3 separate regions of the Homo sapiens genome follow, and all the other regions are linked to region 1. Evidence: fine-mapped expression QTL. A gene starts in region 1. Each other region holds a variant in brackets. All regions are shown on one strand. Distances are from middle to middle.

Region 1 (2,653 bases):
CTGGTGGACATGGCTGCGGAGGGTGGCGATGGCCTGGGCGGCGGCGGTGGCGCGGACTGGCTCCCGGAGAAGAGGCGAACGAGGGCGCGGTGGGTGTGGGTGGTGGGAGCGCGGCTGCGTCTCTGGCGCGGGGACCTCGGAGCGAGAGTGGCAGAGGACTGGACCCCGCCGAGGGCGCTGTTTTTATAACCCCGTTAGGAAAGAGGGTCCCCTCCCACTGCCATCCCAGCCGCGGAGCGCGCCAGCCAATAGGGACCTAGCGAGAAGCGGGGAGGGTGGGCGGGTGGGGTGGGGGCGCCCTCGAGCCTTCCTGCTCCGGGGCCTGGGACTGGGCATGGTCCCGTTACTTCAGCGCTGGGCTGGGACTTTTGGGGGCTTTCCGGATGATAGTCTGAGCTGGGCTCACCCTGGGGTGCTGAAAAAGGCGGGGTCGCGCGGTGAGGGGGGGGTCCGCCTGGGACTGAACCAGAGGGGTCCGGTGGCACCACGCCAAAGGGGCGTGGGAGGAGGTGCGCGGCGGTCTCGGGGCTGCGGTCAGGCGGGGAGACCCGCGGGCAAAGGAGCGGGAAGAGGAAAGAGTAAGGAATCCCTCAGATCTGAAGTCGCGGAGAAAGAAACAAAGAGCGCCTGAGATTGGAACGCGGGGTGGGGGCGCGCACAGCGCAGGAACGCAGGGCTCAGGCCTCGCCGCAGCCTCGCGCGCCGCCCGCTTGGAAAGGGGGGCTGCTCCGGCCCGCGCCTCTGTCCATCGACTTGCCTTGGCGGAGAGATGTTGGGGGGAGGGGAGGTTCTGTCGAGGGACCTAACGGGCTCAGTCCAGCTTCGGACGGCGGGAGTTGCGAGACGGCGGTGGCAGAGGAAAGCCCGAGGGAGAGGGGTGGGGTCGCTTAGTCACCGGCGGTGACTCACCGCGCCCTGCTGTCCCGCCGATTGAGGGCTCCTAGCGGTTTAGGGGAAACCGTTAGACCAGATTGATTCAAGTCTCAGCGGGCTCCGCGCGCGCTGCTAGTTCTCAGTGCTACCAACTTACAGCTGGGCCATCGCCTTGCTGTGTGCGGTCGGGCCCTGTGGGGGACAAGAGCGCCCCTAAGTTTTTAATAACTCGCTAAAGCCTGTCTTTGCTCGAATGTGCGGACTTTTTGTTAGCAAGAAACTTCTGCAGCCTTTGGAGAGGCGCCATACGTGGGCCTCCCAGATCACGATTGCACCGGGAAGGTTTTTCTTGCAGAGTCCCCGCCCCCGTCCCTCTGGTCTCCTCTCGCTCTTCCCCCTCCCCCCATGAAACCACACCCAACTTTTTAAACAAGATCTGAAAATTCTGGGTGAAAGAGGAAACTCGACGTCCGTAGTTTCAAAATAGAACTCAGTGATCAGTGGTTTTTACCCTGGTGGAAGTCATTAAAGGTATAATATGAGCCAGTTAAAGAATTAATTAGGTGTTGCTTAAAAACCCCAATTTGATTAATGAGTTCAAATGAAAGGCAATTATGTAACACAAATGACAGAATCTTTGGCGGCAATAGATTTATGTGTTAATTTTAGGACAGCAATGCACAGTACAGGGTTCACGGTGATTTGTCTGGGAAATGCCATAGGTCCTGTTTTCCAAAAGAATTCGTGCAATTGACCTTGGGGTGAGGGGGATAAAACTGTCTACGCAGCAAAAAACTTCGTGTCCAAGACATGGAGGGAGTGTTCAGATTCGGTCACCTTAACCTTTCTAGGGAAATCACTCAATTCAAGGGCTGTTGTTTCAATATTAGTAACGAGCAGAGCTGAGTACTTACCCGCCAAGGGAGATAAAAGGAGACTATGTAAATCAGTCTTCTCGTGATTTAGTAGCAATTGAAAAGGCACAGGTTTTTTTGAGTATTTAGATTTATGGTGTACTGAAAGGATTAACTGCAGAACCACTGTAAAATTGATTCTGCAGTGGATAGGAGAAAAAAAAGTATTTCTCTCTTTTTTTTTGGTGGCGGCAGGGGGTACTGCAGGTTACTTGGTATTTAAGAAACATAATTTAGAGGTAAATGAAGAGCGTATTCTGACTTCTTTGGACAAGCCTCTTTTAGGCAATATTTTGTTTACCTTATCCCAGTTCGTTCTTGCAAATGGTGCTTGCCAAGGTGGAATTACAGGACTCTCTACTGCCCAGCTCGCCTGCTGGGGCTTTCTTTTATTCTCTCTTTCACTGGGAGGCTGCAGGTCATTCCCCAAGAGCATTCCTGGGGCTGGGTGCCCTGGAGGACAAGCCTATGCTCTGAGTTACATCTTGCTTTCTGAGAGCCCTTTATTCAAGCCACTGCTCAGCAAATGCCACCATTGTGAGTGTGCCTGGAACCCTTAGAATGAGAAAAGTGATCTCCCTATGGGAGGAAGAGAGTGTGGAACTCACTTCTACGTGCAGTGCCGATCCCAGGGCAATGCGACGCTTGCTGACTGACTCACTATGGAAAAGGAGGACAAGGCATTGGCGAGGTGTGGCACTGTGCCCTGCTGGTGCCCATAGCCGATTCCTCAGGGCTGCGGTGATGTCTCCTGGAATGGGCACTGGTCCTCTTCATCATCTCAGGGATAGGTAGCTCCTCCTTCCAACCTGTCCCCATTCTGAAGTCTCTGGGCTGTGATAGGCTGCTCTCTTGTCACAGACATA
Region 2 (2,500 bases), 290 kb after region 1:
TAGCACTGGATTGCAGTAGTCAAGTACTTAGAAAAGACCTTCACTTTGTAATCTTCTGGAGCATCGGACAGAATGCTAATGTGCATGTTGATCATCTAGGATCTTGCTGAAATTCACTTTCTCACTGAGTTGGTTGGTGGGGCCAGATTCCTTGTTTCAAACAAGCTCTCCGGTGATGCCGATGTTGCTGGATTATGCACTTTGCATAGAAAGATTTTAGAGGCAACTTCGTGTAATTTACGTTCTGAGGAAAATGATCTCCCTTTCTTCCCTTTCTGCTTTCTGAGAAGCAGAAGAAAACAATTTTGCGTATTTCACATTGTTGATCATATTATGAGTAATAAAATTGAGCCTGAATGTATACACAAAAGTTGGCAGCCATCCCAAAGATGGATTTAGACCAATTCCTTGCAAAATAAAAAAAAGATTGAAGATAGAAATATTGTGTTATAAATCATCAGATTGTCAAAGGAGACAAATATGTGGTTTGTTTTGTCTGATGTGGATATATCCTGATTTCAATTATCAGTTATAGCTTGCTGTGAAAATTCCATCTAGTCTAGTCCAGATGGTCTATACTGTAGTGACCCACCTTGGTGGGATTCTGAGAGCCACCAGCTTACCACCAGGCTTACTGATTTGGTTAGAGACCTACCAATGCTAGTATCTGGCTTGAGAGCTAGGTTAGAGCAGAGCTGACCAGTTACTTCACCCCTGTGGTCTGGTAGGCAGGGAGTGACCAGAGATGTGCCTGGTATATTGATTAGTGGTAGGGCTTGAGGTGGTCAGAGCCTCCAGGCTGGTTATCTCTAACTATTCTCCTCCATTAGCTGAGATAGAGCCCCAGGGGAGCACTATACTTAGCATAAAGTAAAATCTTGCCATGGATAATGTTGAGCATTAACAGAAAGATACACATGACAGAGAAGTACATTTTTCCTTTCCTTTCCCCTTCCCCTTCCCCTTGCCTTCCGTTCCCCTCCCTTCCCTTCCCTTCCTTTCCCTTCCCCTTCCCCTTCCCCCTTCCCTTCCTTTTCCCTTCCCTTCCCTTCCTTTTCCCTTCCCTTCCCTTCCCTTTTTCCTTTACCCTTTCCCCTTTCCTGTTTGTTCATGCTTTCATTTCATTGGGGTATAAACCTAGAAGTGAAATTGCTGGTTCATATGATAATACTATGTTTAACTTTTTGAGGAACCACCAAACTTTTTTATAGGGATGGACTATTTTACATTCCCGTTAGTAATGCGTAAGAGTTCTAATTTCTCCATATCCTCATCAGCACTTCTTATTTTCTATTTTTAAATAATAGTCTTCCTGGTGGTTTGTAGTGTTATCTC[T/A]TTGTGGTTTTGATTTGCATTTCTCTAATGACTAATAATGTTTGAAAATCTTTTCATGTTTTTATTGGCCATTCATAAATCTTCTTTGGAGAAATGTGTATTCGGTTTGTTTTCCATTTTAATTGGGTTATTTGTTTTTAATTTTCGAGTTGCAGGAGTTATTTTATATTCAGGATACTACCTTGGTCATGTGTTTTTATTTTCTTTGGGTATATATTTAGGGGTGGAATTTCTGGGCATTAATTGGATGTACATTTAATTTTATGAGAAACTCCCAAATAATTATTCAAAGTGGCTATGTCAGTATGCAGTCCCACGAGGAATATATAAGACTTCAGTTGCTTTGCACGCTTGTCAACAATTGATCTTGTCAGCCTTTTAATTTTAGCCCTTATGATGGGTGTGGAATGATATCTGACTGTGGTATTTAAGTTGCATTGCTCTGATGACTAATCATGCAGAGTACTTTTCACATTCTTGGTAGCCATTTTCTTGTCTTCTTTTATGAATATCTGTTCAAGCCCTTTGTCCACTTTTAATTTGGTTGTTTTTTCATTATCTGTAGGAATTCCTTTTATATTTCAACTTTGAGTCCCTTGCTAGATAAATGCTTTACGATTATCTCCCATTTCCCCACCCCGGTCTGTAACTTGCCTTTTCATTTTTTTAAATATATATATATTTTCTGGACAGAGTCTCACTCTGTTGCATAGGCTGGAGTGAGTGGCACGATCACCCCTCACTTCAGCCTCTATCTCCCAGGCTTAAGCCATCTTCCTGCCTCAGCCTCCCAAGTAGCTGGGATTATAGGCACAGGCCACCACACATAGCTACATTTTATTTTTTGTAGAGAGGGGGTTTCACTGTGTTGCTCAGGCTGGTCTCAAACTCCTGGGTTCAAGTGATCCTCCCACCTCAGCCTCCCAAAGTGCTGAGATTATGGTTGTGAGCTACCACACGCAGCCTATTCATTTTCTTATTCATGTCTTTAATGAAATGTTTATTTATGAATTCAAATTTATTAATTTTTTATCTTGTGGTTAGTGCTTTTTGCATTCTATGTAAGAAATATTTGCCCATCCCAAGGTCACAAAGATTTTTCTCCGTGTTTTCTTCTAGGATCTTTATGTTTCTAGCCTTTATATTTACATCCTTGAGAAATATT
Region 3 (2,500 bases), 330 kb after region 1:
CCTCCATTCATGTCTGTCATACCTACCACCTGCATGTTCTTCTCTGAGCTACTTAAACAATTGGCCTTTAAGTTATTCAACTGTAGAATGAAGAGCATGATTCCTTCTTCAGTGGGGCTGTTTTAAGCATTGGAGATAATACGATGTAATAACATAGGTAGTGCTAAGTACTTGGAATTTAAAGTCACTTGATGAGTCAAAGTGGCTTTTATTGTCAGTGTTATTACTTCCTATCAACTCTCAAATGATGTTTTATATCTCATTGACCCATGCTTACTGTTTAAATGAAAATCTCATATGTGTATAACATATATATATATATATATATACATATAATAAAATACATTTAATATACACTTTTCTTAATGGCTTTTTCCATGAACTAAATGAACTCTCTTCTCATGAAATGAATCAATATCAAGTATTCAGACTTAAGTAAAACTTTCAAGTGCTCCAGTTGTAAAACTGGAATGTGGAAAATGGCCTAGGCTCATTCCTTCTCTGGATTGAATGGGGGTCCCTCTGATAACATCGGGCAAGCCCAACGCTGCTGCCGAGTGGGATGTATTAGGAACCCTGCCAAAAATAAGTGGCCGTGGGAAGCACTCGTCTTCTCCTAATGGGCCCGAGATGCTTGTTTCTGCCAAGAAATGCTGTGTGGGTGGACGGAACCAGTAAAGGGACCCAGCTTCGGCAAGCAGCCCCCGCAGGAAGCCACTTAACACCTGTAAAGCTGAGATTCTCTTTACCCACCCAGAGACACCAGGGTAGGTGGGACTGGAAAAATGGGTCCCAGTCACAGAAAGGGGCCAGTCTGGGAAGCCTCTTTGTCCCCACAGGCCAGACCTGCTCCTCTTCCACCCAGAGACATTGAGGTACCCGGGGGTATTGGTAGGGGAAAATTACTATACCCTTTGCCTTCAACTGAGAAACACACAGAGTCCCTCAGGTAGCACCAGCAAGAACCAGTGAGAGCCCCGGTAGCACCAATGTAAACCAAGCAGACCAGAATTCCACCACACAGATTCTGAATATTGAAGAGCAACTGGAACTGTAACCCACAAAATGTGCAAGGC[A/CA]CGTGGTAAACATAAACAGGGTGACAGCCTGCTAAAATAAAAGATTTGAATAGGACCCAAAGTTCCCTAACATAATAAATGACATGTCCTGGGTACAATCAGAAAGAACACGTTGTATCAGGAATCAAGAACATCACAACTTGAAAGAGAAAAGAATCAAGTGATGTCAACAGTGAGATAAATCAGATGTTGAAATATATGACAAGGATGTTGAAGTAGTTTCCATTAACATGCTTCAACAATCACTGACGAGCTCTCTTGAAACAAATAGAAAATATCAGCAAAAAAACAATGGTTACAATAAAGAACTAAATAGAAATTATAGAACTGAAAAATACACTAACATAAATAAAGAACATGCTGAATAGGCTCAATAGTAGCATGGAGATGACAGAGAATAGAATCAGTGAACTTGAAGATAGAACAATAGAATTCACCCAGTCTGCACAATAAAGAGAAAATAGACTGAAAAAACAAACAAACTAGATCAACACAGACTTAGGGACTCATGGACAGTAACAAAAGATTCAACATTCTCTCAAAGGGAGAGGAGAGAGTGCAGCTGAAAGAACAATCAAAGAACTAGTGGCTGTAAACTTTCCCAAATTTGGCAAAAGAGACACACCTATAGGTTCAAGAAGCTGAGTGAACCTAAACCAAGATAAACACAAAGAAATGTAAGTTCAGACATATCTTAATTAAACTTCTGAACACTGAAGGCAAACAAAAAGTCTTGAAAGCAGTCAGAGAGAATTGGGACATTACCTAGAGAGGAAGACCAGTTAGAATAAAAGCAGATTTCTCATCTGAAACCATGGAGGCCCTAATGAATTGACAATATATTCTTCAAGTGCTGAAACAAAGGAATTGTCAACCATACATTTTATATCTGGAAAACTATCTTTCAGGAGTAAAGAGGAAATAAAAACTTCTCATATGAAGGTAAACTAAACAAAATTATCACTAGGAAACCTACCATTAAAGATGGTCAAACAGAAGTTCTTCAAACAAAAATGAAATTATTAAAGAACCGTGGAGCATGAGAAAAGAAAAAGGAAAGTGGAAAAAGCAAAAATATGTGTACATACAATAGAATATCCTTTTCCCCATAAAGCTTGTGAATCATATTTAATAAAACAAGAAATTATAATGCCCTCTGTTATTCAGTATAATGATATGGAAAAGTTGAAAGGGGACCTAAATGGAAATCACATTTCCACAAGTGGTCAGATGTGGATGGTGGTAGACTACTATAATCACATAGGCACATTGTCACACACAGAACAACCACTACCAAAACTGTGTGAAGAAATGTACAGAAAAACGCTAATATCAATCAAAATGGAATCCCCAAGATATCAAGAAAAGAGAAATAGAGGACCAAAAAGCAGATAAAGTAAACAGAAATTATATAATAAAATGTA

Alleles and levels. Positions count from the first base shown, and alleles are read on the strand shown. Sizes are in standard deviations (SD) of each study's normalised expression. Not every link is listed here.
For the expression in unexposed skin of the gene that starts at base 1,193 in region 1, allele CA in region 3 goes with a lower level than allele A (small effect, 0.11 SD a copy in GTEx).

What was found. PIP is the estimated chance that this variant, and not a neighbour inherited with it, causes the effect.
Region 2: its variant is the best candidate, but not a certain one, in a credible set for the expression of VIM in whole blood (TOPMed, PIP 0.54).
Region 3: its variant is the best candidate, but not a certain one, in a credible set for the expression of VIM in unexposed skin (GTEx, PIP 0.82).

What each region holds. Positions count from the first base shown.
Region 1 is chr10:17,226,781-17,229,433 of GRCh38, reverse strand. VIM (vimentin) reads right to left here and starts at 1,193. Exons shown (of 10, transcript NM_003380.5): 1 at 910-1,193; 2 at 1-158. The coding sequence starts at 11. It overlaps VIM-AS1 (VIM antisense RNA 1), which reads left to right. Exons shown (of 3, transcript NR_108061.1): 1 at 1-89. RefSeq lists a silencer at 2,500-2,653.
Region 2 is chr10:16,941,362-16,943,861 of GRCh38, reverse strand. The region is part of intron 36 of CUBN (cubilin); the gene reads left to right. Among named protein-coding and RNA genes, the nearest start is that of RSU1, 130 kb to the right of the region's middle. The variant T/A (reference allele first, on the strand shown) is at 1,336.
Region 3 is chr10:16,895,896-16,898,395 of GRCh38, reverse strand. The region is part of intron 54 of CUBN (cubilin); the gene reads left to right. Among named protein-coding and RNA genes, the nearest start is that of RSU1, 80 kb to the right of the region's middle. The variant A/CA (reference allele first, on the strand shown) is at 1,077.